Linked DNA regions of Homo sapiens: regions 1, 2 and 4 are each linked to region 3. The links come from fine-mapping of genetic effects on gene expression. A gene starts in region 3. Each other region holds a variant in brackets. All regions are shown on one strand. Distances are from middle to middle. Region 1 overlaps MYO7B (myosin VIIB). Region 2 overlaps MYO7B (myosin VIIB). Region 3 holds the start of MYO7B (myosin VIIB). Region 4 overlaps MYO7B (myosin VIIB).

The links. PIP is the estimated chance that this variant, and not a neighbour inherited with it, causes the effect. A credible set is the group of variants that fine-mapping cannot tell apart.
Region 1: its variant is the best candidate, but not a certain one, in a credible set for the expression of MYO7B in whole blood (INTERVAL, PIP 0.50).
Region 2: its variant is the best candidate, but not a certain one, in a credible set for the expression of MYO7B in subcutaneous fat (GTEx, PIP 0.74).
Region 4: its variant is the best candidate, but not a certain one, in a credible set for the expression of MYO7B in whole blood (INTERVAL, PIP 0.65).

What each region holds. Positions count from the first base shown.
Region 1 is chr2:127,612,930-127,621,065 of GRCh38, reverse strand. It overlaps MYO7B (myosin VIIB), which reads right to left. Exons shown (of 48, transcript NM_001393586.1): 27 at 600-726. Among named protein-coding and RNA genes, the nearest start is that of MYO7B-AS1, 14 kb to the left of the region's middle. RefSeq lists an enhancer at 818-867. The variant C/G (reference allele first, on the strand shown) is at 1,917.
Region 2 is chr2:127,573,601-127,581,736 of GRCh38, reverse strand. It overlaps MYO7B (myosin VIIB), which reads right to left. Exons shown (of 48, transcript NM_001393586.1): 7 at 7,675-7,817; 8 at 5,029-5,142; 9 at 3,451-3,604; 10 at 915-991. Among named protein-coding and RNA genes, the nearest start is that of MYO7B, 42 kb to the right of the region's middle. RefSeq lists enhancers at 3,482-3,531, 3,580-4,133. The variant G/C (reference allele first, on the strand shown) is at 4,462.
Region 3 is chr2:127,532,025-127,540,160 of GRCh38, reverse strand. MYO7B (myosin VIIB) reads right to left here and starts at 4,478. Exons shown (of 48, transcript NM_001393586.1): 1 at 4,330-4,478. RefSeq lists an enhancer at 3,596-4,446.
Region 4 is chr2:127,622,285-127,628,074 of GRCh38, reverse strand. MYO7B (myosin VIIB) reads right to left here. Exons shown (of 48, transcript NM_001393586.1): 29 at 4,700-4,873; 30 at 3,755-3,982; 31 at 2,540-2,707; 32 at 983-1,100; 33 at 765-891. MYO7B-AS1 (MYO7B antisense RNA 1) reads left to right here. Exons shown (of 3, transcript XR_923314.3): 3 at 1-2,078. Among named protein-coding and RNA genes, the nearest start is that of MYO7B-AS1, 5.6 kb to the left of the region's middle. The variant A/G (reference allele first, on the strand shown) is at 2,813.

The DNA.
Region 1 (8,136 bases), 81 kb before region 3:
AGGGACATGTGAGAAAGTGTTTTCTGTTTGATCACAAGGACCCTGTAACACCACAAAAGGCCAGAAGGAAATATTAACGGAAGTTAGCTCTGAGTGTGGGGGTGACTTTTATTTTGGTTTTAGATGTTCTGCATTTCCACATATTACTTTTATAATCAGAATTTAAAGGCATATTAAATCAGTGAAGCTTGGGGCCACTAACACTCGGCCAACCCAGCTCCATTTTCAGTCCTAAGAACTAGAAAGAGGTGCCGTGGCACATCTCCAGGCAGGGCCCACTCCTGGACACCTGTCTTTTCAAGGCCCGTGTCATCTACCTTCTCATTTTAGTCTTGAAGCACCATCCTGACACCTGAGCCAAAGTGAAATGGCCCTGCAGACCCTGCGTAGGGGCTGGAAGGAGCCAGGAGCAGGGTCCTCTTTTCCAGATGGGGAAACTGAGTCCTGGAGAAGCATAGGCATGGCTGCCCATCTGGCCTGCAGGAGCAGGAGAAATGGGCCACGTACTGGAATCTGTGGACCTGCTCCAGGGCCAGGGGCCACCTACGCTCCCACCAGAACCTGCCCCCTGCCCGCCCTCCCTTCATGAACCCTCTCACCTTCATGAACCTCTCTGAGGGTGGGAAGCAGCCGAGGCAGAGGCTGAGCAGGATCCAGCCCCGGGCCAGGCTGCTTGTTTTGAAGTTCTCCGAGAGCTGCTTGCAGATCTGGCAGTAAATCTCATCCCTGAAAGACACAGACCATTAGGAGAGTAGGCTGGGGGCTGGAGGAGGAGAGGAGACAGGGGTACCTGGGCACACAGCTCTTGTGCACCTCTGAGAGGTCCCATATGCAGGGCACCTCTCCAGCGCCGGGGCCCTGCCCAGCCTCCTCCTCTCTCAGGACAGTGCCACCAGGCTCTGCATCCCTACTCGATTCCTCTCCCATGGCCTGTGCTCTCGGTCCTTTAGGGTGGGGCTCGGCTTCAGGAAGCAGCAGGTTCTCCAGCCACAGCCCTGTCCTCAGCAGCCGCGCCCTTTGCACAGCCCATCTGCTCCCAGATGTGCGGGATCCCCAGTCTCACGGTGATTACAGTCATTTCTCTCTCTGCCTTGAGGCCCCACCTCCCTCCCTGAATGCAGCCCCTCCCCTCCACAGCAGAGAGAAAAGTGAGGACTTCATGGGAGCCACTCAACCCCATCTCCTGACCATTCCTACTCCCACGGTCTGTGGAGCCTCCCCACTCCTGGTGGGGGTGTGTTGGGGGCGGTTCTCTCCTGCGTCCTTCCCCATGGACTCAAGCCTCTATCATGTTATAAAAGTGGCCCATTAACACCTCAAATGCCACATCTCCAGAGGCCAGCATCTTTCCCCTAATACTCAGTGGTGTGCTGGTAAATGTTTATCAACCAGCTCCCCCAAGAAGAAAAGCCCAATTCACAGCATTTGCTTATTTCTGTGGTGTACATGTTCCCACCAAAGCCAATGTCAACTGCGACACGACATCACCGAACAGAGATGGGAAGCAATGTGCATGGCTGGCTCTCTGAGTTCCTGCATCCCTCCTCTTTCTGTGGTCTACAGGCATCGCCATCAGCCATTCACCCAAACTGGAAATCTGGGGGTCATCCTGGAGCCCTCCCATCCCTTCATTCCTCCAATCCAACCAGCCCCCACCATCCATCCAGCCCCCACCACCCAGCCGGCACCCACTACTCAGCTGGCGCCCACCACCCAGCCGGCCCCCACCATCCAGCCCCCACAACCCAACCAGCCCCCACAACCCAACCACCCCCCACCACCCAGCCAGCCACCACCATCCAACTGGCCACAACCCAACCAGCCCCCACAACCCAACCACCCCCCACCACCCAGCCAGCCACCACCATCCAGCTGGCCACCACAACCCAACCAGCCACCACAACCCAACCGGCCCC[C/G]ACAATCCAGCTGGCCACCACAATCCAACCAGCCTCTACCATCCAACCAGCCCCCACAACCCAACCAGCCCCCACAACCCAACCAGCCCCCACAATCCAACCAGCGCCCACCATTCAGCCAGCCCCCACAACCCAACCAGCCACCACAATCCAACCAGCCCCCACGATCCAACCAGTGCCCACATGCTACCATCTGTCTCCTGCATGTTTCCTCTGTCCCCTCCTCTTGGCTCCTGTTCCTTGGGCAATTCCTCATCAGCTCTCTCTGGATCTCTGTAGCAGCCCTGCCTGGCCTCCCAGCCCCAGGCTCCATCCTGCCACATCGCCAGGGAGGTCTTTCTGGAAGTCAAATATGATCAAGATCCTCTCTTGCTTAAAACTTTCCCCACTTCCCTTAGGATGGAATCCAAGCTCCATGCCCCAACAATGGCAAACCACTCATAAATTCCAGACCCTGTGGGCTGTCTCAAGGGTGACTGATGCAGGCCGAAAGAGTGAGGGTCGTGATCAGCTCAGTATACCACTGGAGGCTATATGAGCAAACAGCAAACTGTTCTCATAAAAGCAGAATGTTGGCAAACTGACAAACTGCGTCTGCCGCCCAGAAGGAATGCTGAGGGCAGTCACGACCCAGGCACAAGTGTTTCTTGTGATTATCTACAGGGCACACCTGAAGCCTGTTAGTAATAATATGAACCTGTGATCAGTTAAGCAGCTGACCAATCGTTACCTCCTCCTCCCTGCTTATTCTACCCAATAAATACTAAGGGCTGAAGAAGCTTGGGGTGGGGGCTGTCTTTGCTTACTAGGAGTAGGGAGCCCTTTTTCTTCCCCTGGCCCCTTTAAAACAGTTTCTTTTGTTTTAAGTTTTCATTTCTACGTTCATCCCCCTTCGTTCCGTCTCGTAATGACGGTCTCAAGTAGTGACAGTAGTAACTCCCGTAATGACGATCTCAAGTAGTAACAGTGGCAAATTGCTGCAAGTGCTGCCTGGACAGGGACGTAACAGGGACAATCAGGGACAAACAGACCTGAAGGGACCTGAAGAGGCCTGCAGGGACAAATAGAGATAAGTAGGGATAAATAGAAATAGAGACAAATAGAGAGAGCTAGGGAAAGACAGGGACTTGCGGGAACTAACAGGGACTATAGGGACAGATAGGGATAGACAAAGACTAGCAAGGACTAGCAAAGACTAGGAGAAACTTGCAGGGACAGACAGGAACAGATAGGGACAATAGGGTCCTATAAGGACTTGAGCGAGGAAGGTCTGCTGGAGCAAAAAAAAAAAAAACTAAAGCCCAGAAAAAACTAAAACCAACCAGATGAATAAGAAACCCCGTTACAAGGCCGGGCGCGGTGGCTCACGCCTGTAATCCCAGCACTTTGGGAGGCCGAGGCGGGTGGATCATGAGGTCAGGAGATCGAGACCATCCTGGCTAACAAGGTGAAACCCCGTCTCTACTAAAAATACAAAAAATTAGCCGGGCGCGGTGGCGGGCGCCTGTAGTCCCAGCTACTCGGGAGGCTGAGGCAGGAGAATGGCGTGAACCTGGGAAGCGGAGCTTGCAGTGAGCCGAGATGGCGCCACTGCAGTCCGCAGTCTGGCCTGGGCGACAGAGCGAGACTCCGTCTCAAAAAAAAAAAAAAAAAAAAAAAAAACCCCGTTACAAGTCTGCTGGCAGCATAAGGTCAGTGCTTTAAAAAGGTACTGGTCAGTGTCCTAGAGGTACAAAGAACGGGAAGTTTTTCAATCAGGGTAACATGGGGAAGAATTTGGTTCTCTTCTCTTTTTTGTTTGGAGTTTGGTACATACCATTTTCTTGTCATTTCAGGGTTTGAGAGAATTTTTTGCCCCACCTACAGCACCTATCGAAAGTGGTGAACGGGAGAGGAAGGATGAAAATTGGCTTGTACCGTCTTCTTTTGCAGCTACAGAAAGGCGAACTTTAGCTTTGTCTTTCGTGGCTTGTAAACGTGCGCTGGTACCTGTGAGATGTGCAGAGGACTTGGGAGGTTTTCTCAGAGCTTGTCAAGATGTGGGAACTGAGCTTCATTGCTCTGCAATGTTGACTCAGGCAATGGCTAATTTGGTAACTGACAGATCTAAAAGAAGCCAAGGGTTAAGCCCTAAAGTGGGAAAATGTTATAAATGTAGGAAAATTGGACATTTCAAAAAAGAACACCGCCAGACCTCTGGGCAAAAGGGATCTTATAACACGGTTCCCCTCCCAACAGAAAAACACCAAGACTTTGCCCTCATTGCAATAAAGGAAATCATTGGGCTCATCAGTGCCACTCAAAATTTCATCAAAATGGCACCCCCCTGTCGGGAAATGAGAAGGGGGCCTGGACCTGGGCACCTCAAACAATGAGGGCATTCCCCATCCAGGCCACAGCTCTGCTTCAGGGGTGGGTCTCCGGAGGCACATTAATTCCCTCTCTCCAGGAATGCCTGGAAATGCAGGATTGGATCTCCCAGTCGGAGTGCGTTACGTTAACTGGAGGAGACAAACTCACTAAGATTCCCACCGGTATCTGGGGACCTTTGCCAACAGGATATGTGGGATTAATTTTAGGTAAAAGCTGTCTTAATTTACAGGGCATTATTGTAACCCCAGGAGTTGTTGATTCGGATTGTGAAGGAGAAATTCAGGTGGTGGTGATATCACAAGGCCTTTGGGTTTTTGAACCGGGAGAATAAGTTGCTCAACTGTTGCTTATTCCCTGTAAATTGTACCCTTCTCTACGTAAGAAGAAGCGAGGAGGTCAGGGATTTGGAAGTACAACTAGGAGACAGATTTATCTATCACAACCCATAGCATCTAGTAGATCCACTTGTGCAGTGTAAATTGAAGAAAGTAGATTTTGTGGGCTTATGGATACGATCTCTCATGGTAATAGAGCTTGAGGATTTTTTTTTATTGTTATTGCAGGAGAAGGATAAACTCTTGATTTGTTTTCTCTGTGCCTTCTGTTAATCAGAAAGAGCCTGCCTCTTGCTATCAGTGGAGTTTTACCCCGCGGTAATTAACCAAAGAGGCAGAAGCTGAGTTGCAGCTTGTGGAGCGGATGCTTCAGCAACGGCATGCCTCCCGGCTGCAGCCACAAAAGCCTTTGCTTCTGTTTCAGGAGATTTACTATTGTGGGAACGAGGGTATGCTTGTGTTTTCACAGGAAATGAACAAACCATGTAGGTGCCCTCAAGTTGTGTGCGACCATGCAACGGGAGACTGGAGGGACCTGTGGATCCCAACCACGGGCCTGGTTCCCCCAGTACCAGCTGAATGCGAAGACGGAACAAACCACCAACTGGCAATTAAGGGCTGCACAGCCTGCAATTGCCTTTCTCAATTAATTCAAAACAAAAAGGGAGAGATGTTGCAGGCCGAAAGAGTGAGAGTCGTGATCTAGTATACCACTGGAGGCTATATGAGCAAACAGCAAACTGTTCTCATAAAAGCAGAATGTTGGCCAACTGACAAACCGCGTCTACCGCCCAGAAGGAATGCTGAGGGCAGTCACGACCCAGGCACAAGTGTTTCTTGTGATTATCTACAGGGCACACCTGAAGCCTGTTAGTAATACTATGAACCTGTGATCAATTAAGCAGCTGACCAATCGTTACCTCCTCCTCCCTGCTCATTCTACCCAATAAATACTAAGGGCTGAAGAAGCTCAGGGCGGGGGCTGTCTTTGCTCACTAGGAGTAGGGAGCCCTTTTCTTCTTCCCCTGACCCCTTCCTTTAAAAGTTTCTTTTGTCTTCAGTTTTCATTTCTACGTTCATCCCCCTTTGTTCTGTCTCATAACGATGGTCTCAAGTAGTGACAGTAGTAACTATCGTAGCAATGGTCTCAAGTAGTAACCATGGCAGTCTGTCACGGGTGACCCGTCTACCCTTTCCCTCTGTCTGGCAAACACCCCTCCTCCTTCCTTGGCCCAGGTAGGCACTAAGGCCACTCCTCCTTGGTGCACCTGTGGGGCCCTGAACAGACCTCCATCTTAGCACTGGTCCATCTTAGGACCAGGAAATTCACTGGCATTGTGAATTTCCTGGTCCTCTCGTGCCCCCCAGCTAAAGGGTGAGCTCCTCCAGGACAGAGCCATGTCTTCTTCATCTCTGTCCCTGGCCCTCAGGCTGGGGCCTGACCCAGAGTGGGTAATGAGCAAGTGTGTGTGGAATGTGTGACAGATGTGGAACAGGGCATCTGCTTTGTCTGGGAATTTCACCAAGGCCCTGCAGCCAAGGACAAATGGATGCTCATATCCGACGTTCTAAAGAGACACATTCTTGTAGGATTTACTAAAAGGTGGCAGAACTAGTGCAGCCACCAAGCCACCTCCAGCCTGCATAAGGGAAGATAAGAAATTTGGAATGTGATTCCTGGAAGGGACTTCATGGGGATAGAGAGATCTGTGGCCCATTTCCACTCCCTGTAAGTGATGAGGTTGGTGAAGGGGACCCCAGGAGAACTGGGGGCTGCCAGAGAAGAGACCCATGTCACTCCCCATCTGATGCCTGCTGAGCTCCAGAAGCCCATTTGCCACCTCCCAGGGTACTAGAATAGAGCCTGTTGATTGAGTTCTTGCTAGTGCTTGACTTTTGTACTCTGGAGTTAGGGACCTCCATGAACAAAGACATTAGCGCCTGCTTGTTCCTGGAGAATTCTGAGCCCATCCTGATGGGCAAGGAGGAGAGAGGACAGGAGATGGGAGCTGTACATGTACTGTATGGTTGGGCAGGCATGAGCTTCCTGCTGACCAAAAGATGTCGTGGAAGGAGCTGAGCTTCAGGCATCTAGATGGGATCCCACACAAGCAGGCAGCCCATTTTCTAGAAGACCCCAGCAGTAAGAGGCTGTGGGATGTTCCACTTCAGCCTAGAGTCAGTAGGAAGTCTCAAGGGATCAGTGTTGGACAGTATCACTGCTGGACACCAGCACTGTATGGGAGTGCCTATAGGGGGTGTCTGAAGAACCCAAAGTACACATCATTCGAATATAGCTTTTATGTGTCTGCCATATTGGAGGGTGTGGTGTGGTGGCCAGTGAGGATTAACCATGAGAGAATTAGAACCAGCTAAGTCAGAAGACTTGCCCAGCTAGTGTCATGCAGGCAGCTAAAACTTGAGAAGCCCTGTAGTCTTACTGGCTTGAAGAACCAGAGGAGAGAGTTTAGGGTACCCACAGTAGCTTGAAAGTGAGAAGGGAAATCTTGGAATAAAGACAATCAGAGGAGTCCTAAATTTTGCACATAAAATCTTCCCAAATCTCTGGTTGCCCCCTGACACACATGGTGGGGCAGACTCCAGGTACTCTAGCCAAGGCTAAAATAACTAAAAAGGGATTCTAGCTTCTGCTCATCATGGAGGAGACAGAGTTTGAGTCCAGCCAAGGTAGTTGCCTCCTAAAACAAAAAATCAATGCTCTTTGAAAGAGTATAACAGAATCCAGAGTCTCTAACGTATCATCCTCAATGTCCAGGATACAACCCAAAAGTACTAGACTTATGAGGAAAAAACAGTCAAGTACCAGATATATGAGCAAACAAACACACCACCATCCTCAAGAGAAAAGACAGTTAATAGAGACTGACCGTGAGATGACCCAGGTATTGGATTTGCAGAAAAGATTTAAAAACTACTGTAAATCTGCTCAAGGATATAAAGGAAACAATGCTCATAGTGAATGAACAAATAGGAAATCTTGGCACAGAAATATAAAAAAGACACAAATACAAATTCTAGAACTGAAAAATACAATATCTGAAATAAAACATTTGTTGGATGGATATGACAGCAGACTAGGGAAGACAAAAGATCAGTAAATTTGAAGACAGGTCAATAGAAACTATCCAATCTAAAGAACACAGAGAAAAAAGAAAGAAAAGATAAGCAGACCCCTAGGTACCTGAAGAACAATATAAAAGAATCTTACAGAGGCTTAATTAGATTTTGAAGGAAAGGAGAGAGACAGAATGGGGTAGAAAAATATGTGAAGAAATAATGACCAACAGTTTCCCAAATTTTGTTAAAAGTATTAACCTAAAGTAAGTGAACCCCTAAAACACAGTAGTCAGTCCCTTAAAGCAGTGAACAATCAGTCTCTGCATGTTCGGATTCTGCTTCTACGCATTCAGCCAACACGGATGGGAACTGCAGTGTTTGCAGGCTGACTATACGTGTTTCTTCTAATTGGTATAGAAACCCATTCCTATAAA
Region 2 (8,136 bases), 42 kb before region 3:
AGCTGTTAGGGAAGGATTCTCCAGCTCGGTGGGTCAAGCCCTCAGTGGGTCTCCTGGGGGCTGAGAAAGGGGCTGGCTCCCCCAGCCTGGCCTTGGAAAATGAGGGTGAGGGAGGGATCTGAGGCCAGACCTCAGGCATGTCCTGACTGAAATCAGTCCCGCCTGAAGGCTGAGAGTCTAAAGGAGCAAGAGAGTGTGCTGGGCCAGCCCTCCACTGGAGCTGACAAAACCCAGAGTTTCTGAGTACCCTCGAACCAAAAGAAGAATGTTAATAGCAAAAGGTACCTAATGTGATTGCTTGCTTTATGTATTTATTTCTTGCTCCTGATTCTATTAATTTTCCACCAGAACTGTCAATGGGGGTGACGTGGGGTGCTGCCATGTCCCCATTGCAGAGGTAGCCCCTCACTCAGGGCCTGCAGCCCTTCCTTTAAGCCAAGGCTGCATTTGGACTGGGGAACAACCGGGAAGGCTAATGGGATGGGCCCCAGACTCACTGGCACATTCCACTCTCCCAGAATAGTGCAAGCCCCGGAGAAGCCCTGCGGGGTGAGGGCACAGGGCAGGGCTAGTCTGATGGGTGGGTTGGGGTCCAAGTGGGGAGCCTAGGGACCTGACAGGGTGGAGGGCGAGGATACTGAAACAGGGCCACTGACAAGCAGGAGGAAATGGAGGGAAAGGGAGGAAACATTCATTAAAGCCAAACTGGCCATTCCGCCGCTCTGTTTGGCACTGCCCCACTCTGCGCCCACCCTCAGGCACCTGCAGTATACAGAAGGGAGGGGTTTGAGCATAGGCCCTGGGAAAGGGGTGGGGGCCTGGGTAGGGTTATAAGAATCAGGTGTCAGGGGTCTGTCAGCCCAGGCCTCTGAGGCCCCCCACCAAAATGGAAGCTGTGGGCACAGCACCCCTACCTCCAGTAACTTCATCACGGTGGGAAAGGCGGGCGTCTCCATCACGTCTGAGGCGTCCAGGTTCTCGAAGACCGAAGCTAGAGAGAGAAGCAGGAATGCTGAGTTGGAAAGCAGCCTGGAGCGATGGGAGCAAGGTCCCGACTGGCCCGGGCCCTTGGCAGCCCCAGATCCACTCAGGAGGACAGCTGCCCTGGCGTAAGCCACGGTCTCTCCCAGTGTCCTCTCTTTGAGGGAGCCAACGGCCCCATGACCATGGGTCATTCACACCTTAGCTGTTGATGAACGTGGCAGACCACTTCCTCTTGAGGAGACCAGGGCCCTGGGTCGAAGGGAAGTTTAAAGAAAGGTGGGCTTATTTGGAGGGAGAAGTCTGACTTGGGAAACACAGCAGACACTGGCACTGGAGAGATGAGCCATCAGGCCCCTCAGTCCATGCTGCTGGGTGTGGAAACCCGGACATTTCGTTATTTATTCAGTCACAGGAAGCAAAGCACTAATGGAGCTCCAGCTGTAAGCCAGGCCTGGCTCTATTGCAACCGTCTCCTGACTGGCCTCCCAGCTTCCAGTTCCTCCTCTTCAACCAACGTCCAGCTTAGGACGTGCCAGGCTGGTGGGGGACGGGACCTTTGGGTGTCTTTGTTTTTGCTTTTTTTCTTTTTTAAACTGAAAAAAATTGGAGATAAAATATACAGATAAAGAAGTGCATAAAACACAAAGCTGTGTTGTAAAGAATAAAGTCAGCACCACGTAACCACGCTAAAGCCAAATCTAGGATCTGCCAGCACCCACAGCCCTCCGAGGTCCTTGCGGGCTGAGACTGTGTCCCTCTCCTCCGGAGGTAAGCACCCTCCCGACTTCTAACTTCCTAGCTTTTTATTCCCTACATAGAGTCCCTAAACAGCATTTAATGTGCCGGCTTTTAAATGTTATGTTAGTGGGCCAGGCGCAGTGGCTTGTGTCTGTAATCCCAGCACTTTGGGAGGCTGAAGCAGAAGGATCACCTGAGGTTGGGAGTTCGAGACCAGCCTGACCAATATGGTGAAACCCCATCTTTACTAAAAATACAAAATTAGCCAGGCTGTGGTGGCAGACCCCTGTAATCCCAGCTACTCAGGAGGCTGAGGTGGGAGAATCGCTTGAACCTGGGAGGTGGAGTTTGCAGTGAGTCGAGATCCCACCACTGCACTCCAGCCTGGACAACAAAGCAAGACCCTGTCTCAAAAACAAACAAACAAACAAACAAACAAATGTTATGTTAGTGGATCTGTCTGCATTCTCTTGTGCCTGCTTCACTTCCTCAGCATCATGTTTCTGATGCTGTCCCAGGCCCCGGTGCCCACCTCTGGTTAGCACCCACCTTTCCCTGGCCGAAGTGTGCAGTCTGGCTGATAGACGACAGATCAGCCCAGCTGCAGCTTGCCTGGAAGCAATATTCTCACATGGCGTGAGATGGTGGCCCAAGCTTTTGTTTTCTATATGGACACCCCATTGCTCTAGAACAGTTTATGAAAAGTCTATCCCTTCCCATTGCTTTGAGAATGGTCTCTCCTTAGTTCTGGAACCAGCCCTATCTCTTCAAATATTGCCTCTGCCCCTTTCTCTCTCCTTTCCTTTAGGACTCCAATGAAAGGTGTGCTCCCTCTGCCACGGTGTCCTCCCAGTCTCCACCTTCTCTCTGACATCTCCCGCCATTCCTCTCTCCATGCTGTACTCAGTTTCTCCTGACTTTCCCTCCAGCTCACACATTCCATCTCCTAGACAGGCACAGAATCCCTTAAACCATCCATTGGGTTCTTCCTTTTGGTTATTTTTTTTTTTAATTTTAGAATGGAATTTCTATGTGGTTTGTTTATAAATCTATAATGTCTTTAAAGTTTCCCATTCGCTGTCTAAATTTTCAAGCTTGGCTGCTTCTTTTCTTGAGCAAAATAAGCAGAACTTCTCTAGTCTGTGTCTAATAATTCCAACTTTGAAATCTTTGTGGATCGATTTCTACTGTTTATTATTTCTGCCGGTTCTTGTTCATGGTATCTCATTTCCTTGTTCCTATTTCTTCCTGGCTTCATGCTGGATGTTGTGTTTGAAAAACTACTCACAGGAATCATTTGTAATCTAACTTGCTGGTGCTTTTTTCCAGCGAGGACTGTCAATAACTGCCGTTAGGTGCTTGGGGGTGTTCACAGGTCAGGACAACTTAATCCCCAGACCACCCCTTGCTCACAACCTGGTTTGCAAGTTCACACGTGGATTTGTTTACTCTGGCTTACCTGAACCTTAAGGGGGAAGCCCTTTTGGGTCCCAGCTAAAAGTGGGGGATGATTGGCCGGTCTCCACCTGTGGAGAGCCTTAAGCTTTGACATTTTCCCCTTTGCCTCACGAGGCCTCCAAAATCACAGCTGAATTTTTTAGATATATTTTTCCAGGCCTGGGTTGGACCACAGGATCCTTCCTGTGAGAACCCCTAGAGATGCCTTCCTGCTCCTGTCCCCTTCCCTCTCCCTCCCCAAGGGTGCAGTTGGGGCAGAACCGGCATTACCCATGAACCCCACATTCCCCAGGTGGAGAATGGCAGCCAGCAGCTTGATGACGTCCCAGCTCTCGGAGTCGGAGAACTGGAGGATCTTCATGGCCGAGCGGATGTGGGCGTAGTCCTTGGCGTCGTTGAGCCCCTCACAGGAAGTGCAGTTCCCCTGAGGGACAGGGTGCCTCAGTGAATGGGGCCATCCCCTGCCCCACCACCTCCCTCCTGGGACCAGCAAGGCTGAGACACTGCACTTCATAGGCAATGGGTGGACCACGTAGGGTCCACGCTCAAAAACTCTTTTCAGAGGCAGAATCATGACACAGTAGCCACAGCATGATCAGGCCTTGCCACCAGCACCAGCATTTGGCCACTGTGTGACCTTGGCCAAGTCACACTTCTTCTCTGATCCTCTATTTGTCGTTCGTCCCTACTCGAGCTTGCCTTGTCTCTCTGGGGGACACTGTGGGTTTGTTCCTTTAAGAAACACTTTCCATGGCTCGCCATGGGCCAGGCCCTGTGCTGCGCATCCAGGGGGGCAGGCAGGGAGCCAGTGACCGTGCCATGGCCATTTGCCTGTTACAGGTGCCCAGACCACAGGGGCCGGGGCCAGCCCTATCGAGAGGTGGAGAAAGGCTTCTTGGAGGAGGTGCAGAGCTGGCCCCACCGCCTCTGAGGACAGAGGGCAGTTTAGGCAGAGGATGATGGGAGCAAGGCCACGAGGTGGGGAGGCAGGGACAGGGCTGCGGGGAGGCTGGGGTGGGTGTTGAGAAGGGAGAGGTCGGCAGAGGGGCAGATCTTGGAGGGACCTGGAAACCACATGGAGGAGTTTGGACTTCTACCCTACAAGCCGCAGGGGTCACTGCAGCAGTGCCATCCAAAGCATGACACTACAGTGCAAACCTTCCTACAGGAAGAGTGCTTTGGCTGCAGGGTAGATGACAGATTAGAGGTCAAGACTGGCGATGGGGGACCCATGAAGTCTAGGCAGGGGCTGGTGAAGGCCTTGGAGCAGTGGACCCAGGA[G/C]AGAGGGTTGCATGGGAGAGATCCCAGAGGCAGAATGCTCTGGGTCCACTCTGTGGTCAATAAACCAGGAGGCGCAGTTCTCCTGAGGGCCAGGGAGCCTCAGCTAATGAGCGATGGCTGTGGTGCCGCCCTGTCCTAGGTGGCGGGTGCAGCTGGGAGCACAGGAAGGGCTTTGCTTTCCTGGGGCCCGGGGCTTACGTTTTAGGGGGCCTGCAAGGACAGACAATTGGAGTGAAATCAGGAGCAGGAGGCATGTGGGCAACTCCCTGTGGCCCACTGGGCACCGGGAGCCTGTCATCCAGTGGGGACCAAAGGAAGATGAGGTCTGCGGGGAGGCCCCGGGTCCAGCCTGGGGCATGGGGTACATGTGACGGGGAAGCGGGAGGCACGCGGGCAAGGTGATTCCCAGCAGAGAGGGGCTGGCGAGGAGAGGCAAAGGGAACCAGCCCCGCCTCAGGGGCCCGGCCAGCGTTGGGCTTCTCTGCAGCTGTCGCGGAGGGTGGAGCGGCACAAGCTCTTTTTCCTCCCTTCCACTGGCTACTGGGAGGCGGCAGGTGGGCAGCTCACCATGGTCAGGTAGTGGTACTCGGAGGGCGTGCCCAGGCTCAGCAGCTGCTTGTCCTCAGCACTCACCCCCATGAGCATGCAGTAGAAGATATGGTAGTTCCGCTCCTCGGGAGCCTGGGAGGGAGGGAGGGCATTCCAGACAGATTCATGAGCCATTCCCCTGAGGCCTCAGGGCCTCAGACTGCCTCTGCCCAGCCCAGCCCTGGCCTCCGCTCCACATCTCTCAGCCAGGAGCAGCTCTGGCACTGACCCAGGGCCAGCCTGGCTTGGTTGCTGTCCCTGTCCCGGGCCTCCGCGGCTGTCTCATCCCTGCCCTGAGAACTCCATTTCCCTGCATCTTGACTGCTCCTCGAAGCCCTGACACTGCTGTGCCCAAAGTCTCCAGGCCAGGAGTGATGGCACAGAGTCGGGGCTCTCTTATAGTCCCACAGTCTTCACAGGCACTTAGTGGCCCACGAGAGATCTGACAGCCACGGGGCTCCCTAGGCCTTCAGTATTTTTTTTTTTTCCGAGAGAAGGTCTTGCTCTGTCACCCAAGCTAGAGTGCAGTGGTGCAATCTCAGCCCACTGTAGCCTCGAAGTCCTGGATTCAAGCCATCCTCCCACCTCAGCCTACCAAGTAGCTAAGATCACAGGCACACACCACCACGTCCGGCTAAGTTTTGTATTTTTTGTAGAGATGGGGTTTTGCCATGTTGCCTAGGGTGCCTTCTGTATTTTTTAAAACACTATTTATAAATGCATTCTCATACAAATCAAACAATCTGAAGCATATGCAGTAGTGTTAAAAGATGGGAGTCTCAGTTGGGCTGTAATCCCAGCAGTTTTGGGAGGCTGAGGCGGGAAGATTACTTGAGCTCAGGAGTTTGAGAGCAGCCTGGGCAATATAGTGAGACCTCACCTCTACAAAAAATAAGAAAATTAGCTGGATGTGGTGGTAAACACCTCTAGTCTCAGCTACTCAAAAGGCTGAGGTGGGAGGATCAAAAACAAAAAAATGAGAGCTCCTTTCCATCCTGCCTTCCCCTTTCTTAAATCCCCTCCTCCCCGCCCCAGAACCTAGACATGTTTTTAAAAAAACATTTACTTATAGTATATCTATAAATAGTTATCTCTTTTCTTTTCTTTGTTTCTTTTTTTTTACACAAAACATATTTGTGGTTCTGCTACTTCCTTTTTTTTCACCTAAACATATCTCTTGGTGATCCTTTACATTGACATGGACAGACCGCCTCCTCTGTAGTATAGATATGCCGTAATTTTAAATTCTTTCTCTTTTCTTGGGCAGGCCTTGTTTCTCACCTGCTTTAGAAATTTCCTGCCCATTTCAGGGTATCATTTTGGGTGACAAGTTCTATGAACTCAGCAACCACTATATCAAGAAATAGGAGCTTCCAGACAGGGCAGAGAGACTCTGCCATCTGCTGGCTCTGTGACCCTGGACAAGGGGCCGAACTTAACTGGACTCAGTTTTCTCATCTGTACAATAGGGATAAAGAGACCTACCTCTCATGGTTGTGAAGGTCAAATGAGATAAAACAGGAAAAGTATAGCACCAGGTCGGAGGGTCACTAAATGTGACCTTCCTTCTCAGCTTGTCACAGTGCGGAGGCATCTGTCCCTCTCACACAGCCACAGCCCCTCTGTTGGTGGCATTCTCCCCTCTGGACCCCTTCTGTGTGTGTGCACTCATTTGCACACATGCATGTGTTAGGTGTTATGCCATCATACGAGAGCACCCCCTTACACTCACACACACACACAGGTGCATTAATTCTGCTGTTGTGGGTGCCATGTGTTGGGATTCCTACCATTTGGGACTGGCTACATGATCGCCCAGTGCAAAAGGAAACCATGGGCCCTCTTGCTAAAAAGCTAGTAAGAATTTCAAGGTGGCAATAGCAGAGCATGAAACCAAGCATGGGGCCCCCTGAGCACAGGGCCTGGTGTGACAACACAGGCCACATGCCACTGTACTTCCTGGCCATGTGGTATTTGGGATACTGTCATCTGTGTCTTTCTGCCATGTCCCCTAACATACCTGAAGATACGGCCCACCCAACTAGCCTAGTCTCAGAATTAATTCTAGTAGGGATGAGGAATGGTAGGCACCAAAGAAAGAAGAAATGTATGTGAATGGAAAATTCAAAATGGAGAAAAGTCTTTTTTGAGACAGAGTTTCACTCTGTTGCCCAGGCTGGAGTGCAGTGGTGCAATCTCAGCTCACTGCAACCTCTGCCTCCTAGGCTCAAGCAATTCTCATGCCTCAGCTTCCCAAGTAGCTGGGATTACAGGCGTGTGCCACTGCCTAGCTAATTTTTTTTTTCATATTTTTTGTAGAGGCAGGGTTTTGTCATGTTGGCCAGGCTGATCTCAAACTCCTGGCCTCAAGTAACCCACCCGCTTTGGCCTCCCATAAGTGCTGGGATTAGAGGCGTGCGCCACCAAGCCCTGCTCAAAATGGAAAAATTTCTATCATTTGCTGTCCTGGAATACTGGGGAAGGGCCCTCATTATCCAGTGAGGCCTGTGGGTTCTGGGAGGGCCCTTGGGGAAGAGGGGAGGAGAGGTGAGAGTGGGAAAGGGGCCCCTCTTGGAAACCTCCCCCATTCCCTCAACTCCCGACCTGGGAAGGGGGAGGCCTCACCTGCCGGCAGACCCGGGACTTCTCCAGGAGAAATTGCTCGATGCGCGCGCCCTCGATCACCCCGCTGGGGTTAAAGTAGATGTCAATGTACTTCCCAAAGCGGCTTGAGTTGTCGTTGCGGATTGTCTTGGCATTTCCAAAGGCTGAAGGTAAGCGGGCGATGCCCATGATGGGAGCAGAGAGGAGAAAATGTAATTTGAGTGGGATCATGTAAGAGGGCTTCTCAGAGGAGGTGGCCAAGCCTCGAATTGAAGAATGGGCACGGCTGCACCAGACAGTGACGGAAGCCAAGCGCCCGCTAAGAGGAAGACAAAAATGCAGGGAAAACCTCGGAGGTCAGAAAAAGCATGGAGTGTGCTTGCAGACGCAGAAATCTTGTCAGAGTGTGGGATGCAGGAGGAAAGCAGTGGAAGGTAGACAGAACTAGTTAGTAGGTAGGGCCAGGTGGCACAGAGCCTTAAA
Region 3 (8,136 bases):
AAAAAGACAATTGCACGTGCATGTTTATAAGAGCACAATCCACAATTGCAAAGATATGGAACCAACCTAAGTGTCCATCAACTCATGAGTGGATAAAGAAAATGTGGTATACGTACACCATGGAATACTACTCAGCCATAAAAGGCAATGAAATAATGTCTTGGGCAGCTACTTGGATGGAGCTGGAGGCCATTATTCTAAGTGAAGTAACTCAGAAATGGAAAACCAAATATCGTATGTTCTCACTTATAAATGGGAGCTAAGCTATGAGGCTGCAAAGGCGTAAGAACGATACAATGGACTTTGGGGACTTTCGGGGGAAGGCTGGAGCTGGGTGAGCAACAAAAGACTACACATTGGGTGCAGTGTACACTGCTGTGGTGATAGGTGCAAAAAAATCTCACAAATCACCACTGAAGAACTTATCCATGTAACCAAAAAACACCTGTACCTTAAAAACTATGGAGTTTTTTTTTTTAAAAGAAATAGCCCTCAAGGAAGTCCTTATTCATTCCTTTTTATGATAGTCCTTGAGAAGCCCCCTTCATGCTGAGATAGCCCGTGAGGTGCCCTCCCTCATGTAGAGATAGTCCCTGAGAAATCTTCCTTCCTTTTCTACAAATAGCTCTTTAAAAACTCTCCTGAATTTCCTGTTATAGCCAATGTCGTTTTCTCCCTTTTTATCCCCTTCATGACATTGCAACAGGAAAGCTGGTCTTCCCCTTGGAAACTGGCTTTTGCCTAACTTGAGAACATTATTAATCTTTACTGCATAGTTTTGTGCGTGACTATCTGGAAGTTCAGAACAAATTTTGTGTCTATGCCTAGCAAATATATGGGATTTTCTGATGTACATTTTGTTTACTAACATTTTCCCAGCTGCAGTGTATTTTCCTACCTTCATTTATCCTACGTCCCAGCTTATTTTATTTTTGATTCTGTTGTATTATAGGTATACTGTAAGCTGCCTCATATCACTCTGTTTTGTTTAGTATTTGAATAAGGCAGGCAAGGGATGAAAGAGAAATTGACAGATACATATACTTGTGCATGAACCACTGCCCTGTGGTTCCTTTTCATACCCTCAGTACTCTGCCCCCAGCCCCCAGAACAGAGTAGGAGCTCAGACAGACACTGTGCTGAAAGTTTTCCAGCACCTGCTCATTAGTTTGATCTGTAAAACAACCCTGCAAGGTAAGTGATGCTACTCCATTTGATAGAAGAGGGAACTGAGGCTTAAGGCCCCACATTTGGTAGGTGACTGAGTCAAGATTTCTTGACTCAAGATTTCTGCAGAGCCTGGTGCAGTGGCTCACGCCTGTAATCCCAGCACTTTGGGAGGCTGAGGAAGGTGAATCACATGAGGTCAGGATTTCAAGACCAGCCTGGTCAACATGGTGAAACCCCATCTCTACAAAAATACAAAAATTAGCCGGGCGTGGTGGTGTGCGCCTGTAATCCCAGCTACTCGGGAGGCTGAGGGGGAAGAATTGCTTGAACCTGGGAGGTGGAGGTTGCAGTGAGCCGAGATCATGCCATTGCCCTCCAGCCTGGGCAACAGAGCCAGACTCCATCTCAAAAAAAAAAAAAGAAAGAAACAAGATTTGAATCTGCAAATGTTTGGCTCCAAAGCGTTTGCTTATTCCACTTCACCTCTCTCTTAACCTGATGAGCAAGACCCTCTAGGTTGCACTGTCCGATATGGTAGCCACTAGCCACATGTGGCTATTTAAATTTAAATGAGCTGAATTAAAAATTCAGACCCTCAGTTGCACTAGCCACACTTCAAGTGCTCAACAGCCACTTGTGGCTAGTGGCTACTGTTTTGGACAGTGCAGAAGAGAACATTTCTATCATCATGGAACGTTCTAGAGCATATCTTACCACCCCCCTCAACCGTATTTCATCCCTGCCAGGCGCCAACAGTGCCCAAGCCTTACTGGTACTTCCTTTGCTCTGTATCTTTGCAGCTACCACTTCCTCCACCTGGAACATCCCCCGTTCCCCACCCTCATCCTCACACCATCCTCCCCTCACAGCCTGCTGCATCCCTTCCCACCCCTACCTGTCCTCAGCCCCAGGACCGCCTCCTCTGACCACTCAATGCCGGAGGTCTGTGCCTCTGGTGTACATGGGTCACTTTTCCTTCGCAGCCTCGCCTCCCCAGCTGGCAGTGAAGGAACACACTACACACTGCTGGAAAGGCAGACAACAGAGTCTACAATGACACTGGATTTGAAAACTTGACTTCATCCTGAGCTCGTCTTCTGCCGCTAGCTACTCCATTCATTCATTCAGCATGTGCCAAGTGTCCATTCTCTGCTGAGGCCTGGGCATGTGCAGGAGATGGAAAAACCCCAGAGAAACCCAGCCCAGGCTCTCGAGGAGCTCATAGTCCAGTGGCCTTGGTCAAATCCTTCCTTCTCCTCCTCCTCCTTCTCCTTCTCCTCCCCCTCCTCCTCCTCCTCTTCTTCTTCCTCCTCCTCCTATTCCTTCTTCTTATTCTTCTATAGAGATGGAGTCTCCCCATGTTGTGGGCTCAAGCAATCCTCCCACCTCGGCCTCCCAAAGTGCTGGGATTACAGGCATGAGCCACCACCATGCCCAGTCTCCTTTACCCTTCTTCATCTCTTCTGTGAAAAATGTGCTAAGATTCTGGCTCTTCCTCCCTGAACAGCTTGGTATGTGGACCAAGAATGGGCACACAAACATCATTTAAATACATGTGTTAAGTAAAATGTATGGAGGCCATTGGTTTTGTCTGAGCTCCTACACAAGGCCAACAGACCAGACCAAAATGGAGTCACTCATGCTGAAGTTCCACACCACCAGGCCCAAACGAAGGTTATCTGACCTTCCAAGAATCAGGAGAGAGACAATAGCTGGAGCCCCAGACAGGCCAGTTTCAGCGGGCATGATAAGGAAGTTCCCTCAGCTCTATCCTTTACAAGGAAAATAAATTGAAATGACTAATCCCCTTTTGTTTTCTGTTTCTCTCAGCCCCATTCTGTCTATAAAGCCAAACTCCTCTGCTCGGCTCATCAGATCATTCATTGTATTCTATAAGTGGGGTGTTGCCCAATTCTAGAATTGCAAATAAAAGCCAATTAAGATCTTTAAGATAAATTTTTTATAATTTTGTCTTTTGACATATGTAAAACAGGAAGCAATATCAACACATATAGGTCATCCCTGTGGTGCCGCCTCTCCACAGAGCCCCGTGCTAGAGCTGTGGATGCAGCAGGCCCCAAGACAGCCGCCTGGGGAGGATTCTCTTAGAGGTGGCATCTGAGGACAGACGTAGGGCCCCCAGCAGGTCCAGGGAGATGGGGTGGGCTGATGAGCTGAGTGGTTCCTAACAATGATTCACTGAGGGTGTGTGTGAATCTCTGAACTAAAATCCTAAACAAAGTGCAGGGTTCTGATAAATTAGAGCAAAATTCAAGTCCAGGGTTACAAAGTGGAGCCTGAAGGGGAGGCCTCGTCATGGAGAATTTGGGGGATCTGGGTTGGGGGCCCCACACCCACCAGCTGTCTGACCTGGGCCAGCTCTCACAATCTCTGTGTCTCAAGTTTCGTCCTCTGTGAAATGGGGATGGGACACACACCACCTGGACAGCTCAAGGGGGACAGCCCATGTGAGCCCCGGTGCGGTCCCTCTCCTCAGCCACCTCTTCCCCCACCCCCCCCCCCACCACACCCCAGACCTGTCCTGCCTCTCCCTAGGGTCCCAGCCTTCCAGAGGTGACTAAAGCCAATTGCCCAAGGTACATGGGTAAGGCGGATAAGCCTGGGCTTTGGAGTCGAATCCGGCTCTGCTTCTTCCCGTGGGCACCTTCGCTTCCATGGTCCTCAGTCTCTGTGTCCATAAAATGGAGGCAATTCCACCACTGTGTTGCGAGGACGCAGTGGGATGTCACACACGGCACAGCTGACATCTGGCAGGGGCTCATCATGGGACCCAGGCTATCCATGATGTCCCATGATTCCACAGTGAGGCCCTCTAGCTGTGAGGAGGCTTCAGGGTGGGAGCAGCCTTGGCACCTGCCGTTCCCCTCCTGCAGGGAGTTTGCCCTTCTACAGCAGAGGGCTAGACAGCTTCTCCCCCTCCTCCTCCTCCTCAGCCCCCCAGGTGCTGCCCTTCAGCCCGATGGACTGAGTCCCCTGCTGCGGTTTCTGGTTTCCAGGCTCCTGAAGGGCTTCTCCACTCTCTATCCCTCAGACCTGTTCCATCTTATTTCCAGGGGACCTGCCTCCTGCCCAGCGACCCTCTTCAGAGAGGTGACCCCCTACTCCCCGCTGGCAGACACGCCCCCGGCACGCCCTTACCTTGTCAGGATGGGGGTCTGGCTGACTCCCCTTCCCCTCCACCCTGGGCACCCTGAAAGAGCCAGGAAAGGAGGCAATGTTGGGACTCCGGGTGTGTCAGGGAGTAAGGGACAGAGGAAGAAGAGGTAGGGCTCCAAGAGGAAATGACTGGGAGCACTCTGGGCCCACGTAATTTATTACAGGACTTTGTCCCTGGGCTCCAGGCACTTCCACTCCCACACGCCTCCCTCAGCCCCAGCTGGCAGAGCCTCATGATACCTGCTCTTTAACCCAGGCCCCTTCTGCAGAGCAGCGATGCATGCTGCCCGGAGGCCACCAGGGTTTGCAGTCTGTGCACCTGCTCTGGCCACCAGCCAGATCCCATGGTGACAGTCAGCTGACCATCCGGGGGCTCAGCATCTTCCCAGGTGCTGCATGGCAGGAGCTCTGCCCCCAAGCACCCCAAGCTCTAATTGAGGGTGGTAGTATAATATAAAATACAGTATATTTGGTCCTTGTTCCCGGTTGGTGTCACAGAACTCCTAAAACCCTTAGAATTTCCAAAGTGATCGTCGGGCATGGTGGCTCACGCCTGTAATCCCAGCATTTTGGGAGGCCGAGGCAGGCGGATCACAAGGTCAGGAGATCAAGACCATCCTGGCTAACACGGTGAAACCCCATCTCTACTAAAAACACACACACAAAAAAATTAGCTGGGCGTGGTGGCGGGCGCCTGTAGTCCCAGCTGGAGGTTGAGGAAGGAGAATGGCGTGAACCGGGGAGGTGGAGCTTGCAGTGAGCCAAGATCGGGCCACTGCACTCCAGCCTGGGTGACAGAGCGAGACTCCGTCTCAAACAAACAAACAAACAAAAAATTTCCCAAGTGATCATCTCATAATGAGTCCGTTTGATAACACCTGAAGTTATGCTGAGGAGGTGACCATGTGGGGGCCCTACCTAGCCTCAGCATGGGGTCAGTCACCAGAAAGACCTAGTGAATAGAGGGTTGGAACTTTCAGCCCCGCCTACTGACCTCTGGGAAGGTAAAACTCTTGAACAAGATTTGACAAGCTTCCACACATCTGAGGTCCCTGGGGGGTGGCATGCGGGAGAGGGCATGGAAGCTCCATGACCTTCCCACACAACTCACCTGTGCGTGTTTATTCGGCTGCTCATCTGTAATCCTTTGTAAAATCTTTTCCCACGAACTGGTCAATATGAGTGCCGTCCTGAGTTCCATGAGCTATGCTAGCAAATCCAACCTCAGGTGTGGGGCATGGGAACCCCGATTTATAGCCAATTGGTCAGAAGTATAGGTGGCAACCTAGGACTTGAGACTGCATTTGAAGTGGGGCAGTTTTGTGGGACTGAGCCCTTAACCTGTGGGATCTATGACTCCAGGTTGACAGTGTCTGATTGAATTGAATTATAGGACATCCAGACGGAGTCTGCTGGAGAACTGCTTGGACACCTGGTCAAGAGAGTGTTCTGTGTTGAGTGTGAAAGGAGCATACACCTGGGACATGTCTGGGGCCATCAGGAAGCCTTAGAGACAAAGGCCATCAGACAACAAGGTTCCCAGGAGGGTACCTGGCAACAAATTGGGCAGGCTTGGGCTGGCACTTGATCAAGGGGGATTTGGGCTTAAGGCAAATACAGACTGTTTAGAAGGGAAGTGCAACCGCAGTGGGCCCTGGGTGGGGTCAGACTGGAGGGGCCAGGCAGTCCCTGGAAGTGAGCAGGAGGGCGAGGGGAGCTCATTTATGCAAGGCTTTGAAGGCGGGTGGATAATAGGGGCAGGTAGTTACCTGGTCAGCCACAGGCCTTGTGTTGGGTAAAAAAGGGGTCTGGTCATCCTTACAGTTGGCCCAACTAGAGCCAATCAGATTCCTTTCTTTTCCTTGGACTTGGAGGGACTTGGGAACTGCAGGCAGAAATGTGGGAATGAGCCATCGTCTTTTAGAACTGAGGTCAAGGCAGGGTGGCAACCCTGAACATGGACCTTTCGTGGGGACACAGACCAAGCGGTGGTGGGAGAGAAAAGGAGAGGTGGACAAGCTGCAGAGGTGGAGACCCAGTGGCTCCAGAGACAGGAGGAGACCCCCGATGCCTCAGGGTTTCCTGTGCCTCCTGTGGGTGGGCTCCATGGAGTCCCCAGTTTCCGTCTATTAAATGTTCTCTTTGTTGACATGGCTTGAAGGAGTTTCTGTATCTTAAAACCAAATGGCCCATCCCAAAGACAGGGAACCAAGCTGGGAGATCCCTTGAAGGACCACTTGGAGGGAGCTGCATGTTCCGAGTCTTTCAGGCGGCCCCCTGTCCCGCCTGTTCCCCCTAGAACAGCCCCCCAAGTTCTGCCCTTGCTCTGACTAGCCTCCTGCTCCCTAAAATTTGGTTCGGTTTCTGGGTCCACACTCAGCCTTTTTGAGCTTCATGCTGCACATGGTTTCTCGGGTTTAGAAAGATACCATTTAGCTCCTCTAGGGCTGACGCTGCTGCTCCTGGCAGCTCCCAGAGATGGTGAACCCCTTGCTCTGGGGCTGAGACTGAGTCCTCTTCGGACCTTTTCTACTGCCCTCATGTAAGAAAATATTGGGACAGAAAATCTGTGTGGACCAAAACAATCTGTAAGATGTTCCCATCCAGTTCTCACCTTATGCAAAATTTGACAGAAACACATTTTAGATACTGACCTGCTATTCTCTGTCTCTCTCTATTTTATGTTACACATTATATCACAAGAACTTTCTGACACTGTACCAAACTTTTACCATTGGTCTTTAGAAACAGCGTGACAGTATGTCACACAAGTGCCCCATCATTTGTATACCCATCCTCCCTGGATGGACCCTGGGAGGTACCCAATCCTTTGCTGTCACACACAATACTGCAATGAACATATCTGTGCTCTCAGCGTTGTTTGCATTTTGTCATTATGGAAGATTCCAGTGGGATCTCTGGAAGAAGATCTTCCACTATGGAAGAACAGTGGGCATGAATTTTTGGTTGCTAATATTTCTCAAGTGGCATGCCAAGTCCTCCCTCCCAGTCAAAACTGCGCCTATGATTGCAAGGACCTGGTCTGATTGCTGTGTGAGTTGGTGCAAAGGGGGACACCCTGAGGCATGGTTCTCCTGGAGCCTCAGGCTTTCCATAGCCAAGGGACCCCAAGCCCTGGAAATCAAGAAGATGGGTTGGGGAAAGGCAGGGCAGGCTCTTCCTGGTAACACGGGCGACCAGGCTTGGCTGTCTCCCAGCCCAGTGCTACTTCCACAATTAGCGTAGTGCTCATTTCCCAAGACGCAAATATTCAGCTAACCTTGAAAAACATGTTTGTGAGCTGAGCTGAAATGCGCCCATGGACAACCTATGGTTCATTCCATTCCTGTCAGTGACCAAGCCCATTATAGCGTCATCACAGCGACTGACACAGAGCAAGCCTTTCGCTTCAGCTCTACCAGCATATCATAGAGCTAACTGAAGTCACTTGCTTATGGTGGCCCTAATATTCCCATCTAGGCTACAGCAGCCAAATTATCCATTAACCCTATGAAACAGCAAGGTTGGCAGCACAGACCTCTGCGACTGAACTACTCTTTAGAACATTTTTGAATTCTCAGTCTCAGAAAGAGCTGGCATGTGATAAGGATTTTCTCTGTGCTGGGCTCTTTGCTTGTACCATCTCACTCAACCCTCATCAAACCTCAACAAATGAGGGGTGCTTCTCCTCATTTCATAGCAAGGAAGTTAAAGTCAAAGAGGTTATGAAACTTGCTTAGGCCACACAACCAAAAGTGGCAGAGGTGCGGTTTGAATTAGGGTGTACCT
Region 4 (5,790 bases), 89 kb before region 3:
GAGATGAGCTGCCGGCTCTGCCATGTGCTTACTCTGAGCCACCTAACCTCGGCGTGCTTCAGTTTACTCATCCGCTCATCTGCAGAATGGGTGATGCTGTCGGTACTTCGTGGCATACAGGAAAGTGCCCAGCATGGTCAGCCTCAGTGAGAGGTGGCCAGTGGGGAGTGGTGGCCACTGTACACCTGGCACAGCCCAGAGATGCATGTGCCACTCTGTTGTGTGCTTCAACCAAGGGGCGCTCTGGCAGGGCTTGGGTGGGACTTCCCAAAGGGCATGGAAAAGTTCCCAGTCAATGAGATCCATGGAGACCCATGGGAGTGGGGGTCAGCCCCAGCCTAAGAGGACCCCCAGCCCTGCCCTGTGCCCCAGGACACACCAGGCACTGTCCCTTGTCGCCTTCCCAGACAACCTGTACCCTCCAGGCCACCAGTTCTCGTCCATGACAAAGAAAGGAGCCTTCTAAATAAGTGCCCGCCAGAGGCTGCACGCTTCCCTGCCCCTTCCGGGTGGACCTGGGTTTCAAAGAGAAGCTGCCAGTGCAACGCGTGATGCCCCAATGGAGTACTTCATGGGCAGTACGGCCTGGTGCAGGAGGGTGGGGCTCCGAAGTACAGAAGCCATCGCATACGTAGATTCTTGTCCCTCCACCCCGGCCTGTTACCCGGGACGGCACACTGCCCCTCTCCCCATCTCTCCCCGAGCCCCCAGATGCATCACAAGGACTCAGTGTGTAAGAAGAGATCTTCCCTCAGGGCCCGCACCTGTTGGTGGCCAGACCCATGACCTCTGGGAAAGAGAGTTCCAGCAGCATCTTCTCCTGCTGGTCCAGGAAGCAAAGCCCCTTCCAGTTAACAGCCAAGATCAGCTGCGTCTTGGGCAGGCGGGGGCCTGGCCAGGAGAGACGGCAGTGTGAAGGCTGCATGGGACCCCTGGGTGCCCAGCCCATACCTGCTCCCTGCCCCCTGTCAGATGCCATTACCTGAGAGTGTGATGACTTCGAAGAGCCGGGAGAAGAGCAGCGGCCACTGCAGGCGGGCGGCGTCCACCACCTGCTCTCGCACGGCCAGTGGTGTGACTTGCTTCTGAGTGTATGGGGCCTGAGGGGGGATCCTGGATGTCACCTCCGTCACCTGCCTTCCCTAGTGAATCCCTCACCTAGTGCTCAGGGTAAAAGAGTTGATGGATCCTTCTGAGAAGGCTCTACAAGGCCAGTGTCTGGAGATGGATCCTGTAGGGAGGCACCTGGGACGTCCCCAGGGACTGGTGCAGCCCTATCCTTTTTTTTTCTTTTTTGAGACAGAGTCTCGCTCTGTCACCCAGGCTGGAGTGCAGTGGTGCGATCTTGGCTCACCGCAAGCTCCGCCTCCCGAGTTCAAGCGATTCTTCTGCCTCAGCCTCCCGAGTAGCTGGGACTACAGGCGCGTGCCACTGCGCCTGGCTAATTTCTGTGTTTTTAGTAGAGGGGGTCTTGCCACCTTGGCCAGGCTGGTCTCAAACTCCTGACCTCAGATGATCCACCTGCCTTGGCTTCCCAAACTGCTGGGATTACAGGCATGAGCCACCACGTCCAGCCTGGCGCCACCCTATTCTACCTGGGAGGGGTGTGGGGACCCTTTAGGAGGAGGGAGGAAGGCCATCCCGTCCCCTCATTAGCATCTGTAGGGCGGGGCTGCGCTAGCTGTGGAAGGCGCTGTCTGTGTGCCCCAGCCCAGGCTCGCTCTTGCCAGCCTATGCCTTGCAGGATTGTGACTCGTTCCGTGCAGGAGGGCATCTTGCTCCGAGTCTGTGTCCCGGGTGCCTCTCTTCTTTCTTCTCTGGAGCTCTTCTGTGTCTCTGGGGGCCTCTCTCGGGGACCACCTCTAGCTCCTTGTCTTCCAGTCTCCTTCCTTCCTCTTTCCTAACTCCCCACCTTCACCCGTTCCTCTCCCCAGCACCACTGTGCTGTGTCCATCACCGACTATAATATCCAACCGAACTCTCTTTTCACTGTTGAATACAGCGTTATTTCTTAGAAAAGTGGCTGGGTACTATTCATATACTGGCTTTGGGAATGTAATAAATGCATCAAATCTGAAGGGTGATTTGAAAATATTCGATATGTATCGAATGTTTAGAATGTCCATACACTCTGGCCTGGGGGGTTCCCATGCACCCAGCGAGGGGATGCTGAGGCCCAGAGGCAGGCAGGGGGGCCCCCAAGGCCATGGTATGGTCAGCAGTCAGCCACTGCAGGTGCCCTCTCATCCCAAGAAGCGAGGGCCTGGCCAGACACCACAGTGCAGACCAGCACAGGGACCCATCCAAGATGCCAGCTTGGAAGGAAGAAGGTGGCATGGGCCTGTGACAGAGAGCTGAACTGAGTGGGACTGCTTAAACCTGAAGGGACAGGGCTCTACTTAACTGTCAAGCTGAGGCTTGTTGTTCCCCAGGGGGTGGGGGTTGTGGGGAGGGAATCCATCTCCTCTGTATACCATGAGCCCCCCCACCTCCCAAAGGAGAGCCCTCGGGTGGGTGCCTGAGCTGCATGCAGGCTGACCTTGGCGCAGGCGGCAGTGACGAGGCTCGCCCACCTGTCTGGGGGCTTGGTCCTGTACAGCTTGTGGGGGATGCAGCTGGGCAGCAGCTCCTGGACAGCCTTGCTCTCTGCTGAGGCGCCGAGCTGCACGTAGCAGTGCCGGGCCAGCAGCTCAACCAGCTCTTCCTCCTGCACAGCCCAGGGCACCCACGGGGGCGAGTGAGACAAGTGAGAGCTCCCCCCTTCCCCAGGATGCCCCTGTCCCGTGGCCGGGCTCTTGCCCCATCACAGGGG[A/G]GCTAACCTGTGGCTCGGGCAGGACCTTCCCCCTCCCTGCATGCCCTGACTGGGCCACCATGCAGGCTGGGAATCCCAGAGGCCTTGGCCAGAGCCTCACAGGCCCTCTGCCTGAGGACAACGGCTGCTCTCCAGTTCTGGGGTGGACCCAGCAGGGTTGCTCTGAGTGACAAGGCGTTTCCTCATCTGAGTTCCAGTCCTTGGTTGTCAAGGGAGACCAGTAGCCCCCCTTGCGGAGTTTCTGCTGGGGCCCAGCTGGGCAGCACCCAAGGAGCCCCTTCCCTCTGGAAGACCAAAGCCTCTTGGAGCCTGGTCCCCTGCCACCCCCTGCCCATGCCTCTTCCAGGCGGGCTTCCTGCACTGCTATGGCCGCCTCCAATGGGTCCCGGAACAGCATCTGCCTGACTTGGCACAGGGAGGGTTGTGCCTGCTGCCCCCAGAACTTCAGGGGTACGATCACTCTGCTTTCTCACAATCCCCTACAAAAGAGCTCCCGGTACACTCCGCACGGTCCAGGTGAGAGCCCCTCCCGAGCCCCCCAGTCAGATGAGGGCCCAGGGCTCTGCGGTGACAGGACTTTCCAAGGTCACAATGCCAAGAAGATGGGGAGGTGGGATTCAGACTTAGGTGTTAGGGCTCCAAGGCCATGTTCTTGGCCACCAGATCTCACTGCCCCATAAACAGAGCAGGAGAGGTGAGGCCAGGCAAGGCCTGGGCCCTCTGGGACCTGCTGCCAGAACCACGGACCCCGGAGGCTTGGACATACCTGTGGCCTAAGGGAGGAGGAAACAGAGGCTGGGCCTGGAAGGGACCTACACCCTTGTGACCCCCTTTCCTGCCCCCCCACCTTCTACCTGGCCTCAGAAGCCAGTTGGGTGCCTCCTCTATGGGATGTTTCCTGATGGCAAAGCCTAGGGTGGACCTGGCTCTCAGGCCCCTCACCTTCTCGAAGCTGTACTCGCCAGACCAGACTCCTCGGAGGACTTGGCGGTAAATAAGCTCGGTGCTGACAGGGTCCTCCCGGGAGTCGTGCCAGGGGGTGAAGAATTCCTTCCGGAAGTAGATGCGCCAGGGTGACTGGCGCTGGCTCTCGCCCCTCTCCTGGGCCATCTGCTCACACCGGGCGATGGCATCCATCATGTGGTCGCGCCCGCTGCCCAGGGACCAGAACTGAGGCCAGAGTCGGGGAGCAGGGGTTAGCGGCTGTTGCATGCCCCACCCCACGGGGACGCCCACCGTCAGCGTGTGCACGTAGAAGACAGGGCCTGGGGCCCTTGGAGCCCAGCGTGGGCTGAGTGGACACTGCTGAGCCCGTGTGGACACCTGAAGGGCTTCTCCACACAGCAATGGCCCATCTGCCACTCCCCATTACTCTCCCTGCAGCCCCTTCCCTAAGGAGGCAGACATGAGTCTGGCCGATGTGACTCATCCGGCGCCTCGGTTGGATGACTGGTGTGTGAGTCTGAGGGTGTGGGCGTGGAATTGGGGGTGCCTATGTGGGCGGTGAGGGTCTGTGCTGGTGTGACCCTCCATGTTTGCTGCAGGGGTGTCCACAGCTCCTGGGCATGAGGGAGTTTGGAGCAGGAGACTGGTGTGAGTGCCTGATGTCTGTGCGTGGCTGCTGGGTGGGGGACCAGGTGTGCATGCGGCACTGCTGGGGCTGAGGCGCAGCTGCAAGGTGACCATATGAGTGCGGGAGGAAAGGCTGTTTGCTCTGTGTGTGTGCACCTGCCTGTGCCTGGTGGCTGGGAGGGTAAGCAGTGCTGTGCCTGGCAGCTGGGAGGGTAGGTGGTGGCCGGGCTGGAAAGGTGAGAGGGCTTGAGCCTCAGGGTGCTCTCCCTGGGTGTATGAGGGAGGCGGCTGACGGGCAGGGTGCCTGGCTGGTACCTTGTCGTACACGGCGACCTGGAGGGAGAAGCCCAGGTGGTCGCTGAGGCCCTGCTTGTGAGCGATGTGCATGCACATTTCCCGAGATGTGGAGGCTGAGTCCACGGGGACGGTTAGGCTCTCTCCAGTGGCCAAGATGACTTGGATGGGGATGTGCTTCTTGGACTTGACAGCCTGGGGACAGATGAGATTCAGTTCCCTGGCCTCTTGGAACCTATGGACAGGAGGCCAACCCCCCATCCACTACCTCCCTCCTCTCCCCAGCCCATGGGCCCTGCTTGCCATCCCGTGGGTTCCCAGGGGTGGGCCCTCTGAAGCCCCAGGCCATGGGCTTGGCATAGAAAACAAAATTCAGGCCAACAGGTGTTTGCCGCTGGAAGCACAGCAACCAGGCAAGAGCAATGTTAGCCACAGGCGTCCAGGTCCTCCTGGACCTCCAGTGGGGGCAGCCTGAGGCCATAGTGGCTGCTTTTATGAGAATCCTGAGCTTGGTGTGGTTCAGTGACTTCACCTCACAGAAGACCAGGAGCTCTTGGGAATCTGAGTCCAGGACTCGGGAACATTTTGGGGCCTTTACGTATTGTTCCCTTGTGTCAACATGCACAGCTACTGCAAGTTCACCTACAATTCCAGGGCTCGTGGGAGGGAGCCCCTGTGGGCTCGGGGGCAGGGTGAGAACAGAAAGAAGGTGCAGCGGAAGTGACCCACAGCTCCTGGTATAGGGCACCTCGGGTCACAGGGCGGGCACCTGCCGGGGTTAGGCTGGGGCCAGAGCTTTGTGTAGAGCCGGGTGCAGGTGTGCTCTCGCCACCCTGGCTGGCTGTTCTGAATGACCCTTCCTGAGAAAACAGCGAGAATTCACAGATGACACAGTTGCCAAAGCAGGTCGAGGTGGCACATGTGCCCAATAGCAATGCCACCAAGGATGCCAACCATGGTGTGACTACTGCCCTTGTCACCAAGTGAAATGCCCTTGGAGGGGAGTGCTGGAAGCAACTGGCGCACTGTAATGCTAATGAGTGGGTCCGGTGATCTTCCCCTTAGCTAGTAGGGCCCTAAAGGAATATGGATTTGGAGATGGGGGTCACGCC